2 separate regions of the Homo sapiens genome follow, and region 1 is linked to region 2. Evidence: fine-mapped expression QTL. A gene starts in region 2. The other region holds a variant in brackets. All regions are shown on one strand. Distances are between the middles of the regions.

Region 1 (2,916 bases), 870 kb after region 2:
AGTTCCAGGTGGGAGCTTGCCACACTGAGACAGCCATGACCTTCCCATCTTCAACAGAAGGGAAGTAGATGGGGGGTGTGGCAGATGGACCCCTTTGTTGGTCCATCTCTGCTCCAGCCTCCATGGCTGTATAGAGGATGCCGTGGGAGAGCCGTGGCCCCTGCTTTGTCCTCTGAGAGATTTGAGGAGAAGGTGGGGATGGACACATGCACCCCCTCAAGCTAGGAGGAGGAATTTAATCTATTGCCCACTGAGGCCTCCCAAGTGTCCCAAACAGCATCTAACATGAGCCGCATGTGACATGAGCCGCATTTGACAGAGGGGTTTTCACTGAATGGATGAATGAGTGTGGGGACGAGGCAGGGGACGGTGGGGATTCAAAGGACCCCAGTCCCTAAGCCCAGCCCGACATGGTGGTCAGCCAAGGCTGTTTCCTTCCACCTTGCCCTCTGTGCCCACTGCACTGTGCATGCCCCCTCTTCTCGTGAACCATTCACCCCACACCTCCAGCCCATGCCAGGCAAAGAGTGTCTGCCTCACACCGCCTCCTACTCTCCATGTTCCTCCACCGGCTCCTCTGTGCAGCTCCCTGACACTGAACATCACCGTAGGGGCAGCTTCCCGAAACTTCCCGATTCATCTCAGACTCTTCTCAGCCTGCATTTCATCATCCACTAGGTGTTCATCCACACAGCCACCCCCAGGGCCGGCCCAGCCCCTTTCCCTGCCTGTCAGGGACAGGTAGCACATGGGGTGAGGGTCTCGCCTGGGCAACCCTGGAAGCACAGCGGTGCCTGCAAGATGGGCCAGGCTCTTCTCAGCTTCCTCGCTCACTGTGAGACCCCGGAGCCCAATGGGCCTTGAGTCCTGCCTCCCCTTCCCGATCCAGACCTTGGCAAATCACCCTCCAAGCCTCAGTTTCCTCACCTCCAAATTGAAGATCGCACCTGCGGACTTCTCATGGGGCCTGACACAGAGCTGGCTTCTGTTTGTGGCTTATGTGTCTACTAAATTATAAGCTCCTGAGGACGAGATTCAGGCACAGAGAAACAAAATCATTTTATCATTAGCTTCCATTTCTTTAACACCCACCTTGTACCAGGCAAACATCTCATCAGTTCATACAAATAACCATGTGAGAGCCTGATCCTGTCTTATAGGCAAACACTGAGGCCCAAAAAATGAAGTAACTTCACGGCTAAGTGCATCTCCAAGAGAAATGAAAACACATATCCACATAGGAGCTTGTACATGCATGTTCATAGCAGCATGACTCTCTCTTTTTTTCTTTTTTTTTAGATGGAGTTTTGCTCTTTTGCCCAGGCTGGAGTGCAATGGCATGATCTCTGCTCACTGCAACCTCTGCCTCCCGGGTTCAAGTGATTCTCCTGCCTCAGCCTCCCAAGTAGCTGGGATTACAGGCATGTGCCACCATGCCCGGCTAATTTTG[T/C]ATTTCTAGTAGAAACGGGGTTTCTCCATGTTGGTCAGGTGGTCTTGAAGTCCTGACCTCAGGTGATCCGCCCGCCTCAGCCTCCCAAAGTGCTGGGATTACAGGCATGAGCCACCGCGCCGGGCCAGCATCACAACTCTTAACCAAAAAGTGGAAGTAATTCAAGTTTTTCATCAATGGATGCATGAATAAACAAAACGTGATTTATCCATGTGATGAAATATTATTCAGCCTTAAAAAGGAATTATTCTCAAAAAAACTAAAATAGAATTACCATATGATTCAGCAATTCTACTTCTAGGTATAAACCCAAAAGAGTTGCAACTAGAGTCTCAAAGAGGTATCTCTTCACCCATGTTCATACAGCGTTACTCACAACAGCCAAAGGGGGAAACAACCCAAGTGTCCATCAGCAAATGAAGAAATAAACAAACTGTGGTATGTCCCTACAGTGGAATATTATTCAGCCTTAAAAAGGAAGGAATTTGGCCGGGCATGGTGGCTCACGCCTGTAATCCCAACACTTTGGGAGACCAAGGCAGGTGGATCCCAAGGTCAGGAGATCAAGAACATCCTGGCTAACATGGTGAAACCCTGTCTCTACTAAAAATACAAAAAATTAGCTGGGCATGGTGGCACACGCCTGTAATCCCAGCTACTCGGGAGGCTGAGGCAGGAGAATTGCTTGAACCCAGAAGGTAGAGGTTGCAATAAGCCAAGATCACACCACTGCATTCCAGCCTGGGCAACAGAGTGAGACTCCATCTCAAAAAAAAAAAAAAAAGGAAGGAATTTATGTCTGGGTGCGGTGGCTCATGCCTGTAATTCCAGCACTTTAGCACTTTAGGAGGCCAAGGCAGGCAGATCACCTGAGGTCAGTAGTTCGAGACCAGCCTGACCAATATGGTGAAACCCTGTCTGTACTAAAAATACAAAAATTAGCCAGGTGTGCTGGAGTGCACCTGTAGTCCCAGCTACACAGGAGGCTGAGACAGGAGAATTGCTTGAACCAGGGAGGCGGAGGTTGCAGTTGAGTCCATATTGTGCCACTGCACTCAAGCCTGGGCGACAGAGCGAGACCATGTCTCTGCCTCAAAAAAAAAAAAGGGAATTTCTGACACATGCTGCAACATAGACAAACCTTCAAACCTTGAAGACATTATGCTGAGTGAAATAAGTCATGCACAAAAAGACAAATACTATGGGATTCCACTTATATGAGGTTCCAAAATAGTCAAACTCAGGGAGAAAGAAAGTAGAACGAGGGTTCCCAAGGGCTAGAGGGAGGAGAGAATGCAGAGTGGTTTGTTGGGTATAGAGTTTTGTGGGGTTTTTTCATTTTGTTTTGTTTTGAGACAGGGTCTCTCTCTCTCTCTCTCTGTTGCCCAGGTTGGAGTGCAAATGGCATGATCACAGCTCACTGTAGCCTTGAACTTCTGGGCTCAAGCTATCCTCCTTCCTTAGCC
Region 2 (2,916 bases):
TAGTTAAGTTACTTGGAAACAATCTGATTTTTCTTCAAGTATTACTTTTAAGCTTTGTTTCACACGTTTAGAACAACCTTTAGTCTAGGGCTAATTTAGTCCCTCTTCTGAAGCAATGCCTTTCTGAGGACTCTGCTTGGTATTTCCTGGGTGAGGAGGTCTTTCCACTGGCTGTTGGGCATGTAAGATATTCTCCAGCCTTTGTGAGCTCCTGGGGTTCTTCTATCTGCTACTTTCCTTTTCCACAGCCTTAGTAATTTTCTCATATGCATGCACTGATCAATATTCAGCCGAAGGCCTTAAGTGAGTCGTCTGCAGATCTCTAGAGTCCTCTCTTTCTGTGTGCAGCTCTCTCCTCTCCAGGGCTCTGCCCTACAAATGTTAGCTGCCTTGGCCTCCCCACACCCTAAACACTATCTCCTTAATTCAGTGAAGCCACTGAACACTGTGTGGTTTCCACTTACCTGTATGGTGGCGTGGAAACTCTCTCCAGGTTGTCAGCTGGGGCACTTGTGGGTCTCACCTCATTTGCTTCTCCTCTGTCAGAGATTACACTTCTGTGACACCTGCGGTCCAATGTCTGAAAATTGTTGTATATAGTTGGTCTATTTTTAGTTATTTAGGGTGGAATAATAAATGCTTACTCCATCATGGCCAAAGTCTCTGTTGTTTACAGTTCAATGGAGAGAGATACCAACTACATACAAATTGAAATGCAAAGTGCCATAATATCTTTAGAGCAGTAAAGGCAAGCTGTTAGAATTGCTCACAGGAAGAGAAAATTATTTCTACCTCTTGGTTAAGGCTTTTATCACCAAGAAGGCAGCATCCCTACCACACCAACTATATACCCCTAACTCTACATCTCCAGCCCAGATTCTCTCTCTCCTGAATTCTGGACCCCTACACATAACAAAACATTTGAATCATCTCCACCCGGGTATGTCACCAGCACCCCAAACTCCACATACCCAAAACCGAATGCACTCATGTTCTTTCCAAATCATATGGCTTCAGATCCTTCTCTGACATGAGCTAGTGGCTCTTTAAAACTTAGTAAGTTGTCTCCTTCAGCAGAAAACAGTCCCTAACTTCTCCAGCCTTTCTCCACCTTTACCACTGCAGCCCCAGCCTACGCTGGATCAGTCACCATCGTCCTTGTTGTACCCTGTGCCTGTGTTTGGCTACCATCACTTGGGATTTTGTGAGCCCCTTGAGGGACGTCGTGTTCCTTCTATGTGTGTTTTGGGTTGTTCGGGTGCTTAACACATAACAGGGGTTCAATCAACTGTCCTTAAATAAATGGTTCCCTTACAATAGTGATTGACAGATAGGAATTGGATGACCATATGACTCTGTTGCATGGGAAAGAAAAAAAATGAACCTGAGAACATTCTTGGGATTAATCCCTTAAACAAGGGGTCAGCAAACTTTGTCTTAAAGGGACAGATAGTAAATCTTGTAGGCTTTGTGAGCCACACTGCTGTTGCAGCTTGCAAGCAGCAGTGTACTGTACACAAACAAATGGGCATGGCTGTGCTCCAATGATGCCATTTACAAAACAGGCAGAGGGCTGGGTCTGGGCTTCCCCTGCCCTAACCTAAGCCCAGCTGGGCTTCATTCAGCACGCTGTGTACCACTCTTGATGGGTAGGCCCACTCTGCCCGCACCTTGAAACCTGACCAGGTCTTCTCCCACCCCATGAATGTAAACATTTTAACAACTAGCCTGACTGTGAAAAGCCTGGAGAATCCTTCCTACAGGGGACAGTGGTGAGTAGAAAGATTATCGTCAGGTGGCGCCTGTCCTTTTGTGACATCTGTTGCTAATGGAAGCTCTGTGTGTGTGTGTGTGTGTGTGTGTCCAGACATGCTCAGGAAAACTGCCTAAGCTCTCTGGGCTTCAGATGTTTCATCTGTTGAGGGAACGATCGGGGTTTGTTCCTGCTCCCCAGGCAATGTGTTTGGTTTCTGTCTTCTGTTTTTTATGGCATATTCTCCCCACCACACTCTCACCATGCTCTCCGGTTGTCGCTGCCAAGGATTGCAGAGTCCGAGGCGTGGGCAGGAGCCCCGTCCAGGGTCGATCTCCTGAACTCACGGAGCCGTGGGAATAGACAAGAGACACTATCTGGGAAAATGCTTTGAAAATAAATAAAATGGGGAAAGTCTAGTCCAGATAAAATGTAAAATATTTAGACTTGAGAACAGGTTTCCAGCTCACTGTGGAAGACACTCGGGGCTGGGGGAGGCCTGGGTCCCTCCCTCTGCCCTTCACATCAGTTTGGTCATCTTCAAATGGGAACCATCCCTGTGCTGACCCTGTGGCCTCACCAGGGCTCGAGGTCCAGGGCTATGAATGCCTGTTGTAAACAGCTCAGGGCGGGACACATGGAAACAATTAGAGACTTATTTCCCAGGACATTGGACCTAGAAGCCAGGCCCCAAGACATGAAGCAACGCTTCTGTGTGTGTGTGTGTGTGTGTGTGTGTGTGTGTGTGTGTGTGAGAGAGAGAGAGAGAGAGAGAGAGAGAGAGAGAGAAAGGGATTCTGGGAAGGGTGGAAGGAAGTGGTGAGACACGAAACGAAGCTGGACAACAGAGAAGACTCTGACTAGAGATTTTTACCATGAGATGGAGATAGTTGCAGAGGCTCCTGGCTGCCCTCCATGCTCCTGTCCCTCTCTGGCCCCTCAGCTTCCCTCCGGCCTTTCCATTGTTCTTGCAGGTTGCGGCCTCCCTGCCCTCCCCCAGCCAAGGTGGAGGCAGGCCCTTGGGTGAGGGGGACTGAGGGGCTTGAGTGATGATGGGCAGAGAAGGGTGACCATCCGTGCCAGGCCTGCGGCAGAATCACCGTTTCCATTTTTTAAAGTCAAATGCCTCATCGGGATCCCCTCCCACCCCGAGAGTCCCCCTA

Alleles and levels. Positions count from the first base shown, and alleles are read on the strand shown. Sizes are in standard deviations (SD) of each study's normalised expression.
For the expression in vagina of the gene that starts at base 1,623 in region 2, C is the low allele of the variant in region 1 and T is the other (large effect, 0.94 SD a copy in GTEx).

What was found.
Region 1: its variant is fine-mapped to the expression of LINC01987 in vagina (GTEx, PIP above 0.99).

What each region holds. Positions count from the first base shown.
Region 1 is chr17:76,854,276-76,857,191 of GRCh38, reverse strand. It overlaps LINC00868 (long intergenic non-protein coding RNA 868), which reads right to left and starts at 1,026. Exons shown (of 2, transcript NR_135284.1): 1 at 928-1,026. The variant T/C (reference allele first, on the strand shown) is at 1,451.
Region 2 is chr17:77,727,266-77,730,181 of GRCh38, reverse strand. It overlaps LINC01987 (long intergenic non-protein coding RNA 1987), which reads left to right and starts at 1,623. Exons shown (of 2, transcript NR_104134.1): 1 at 1,623-1,772.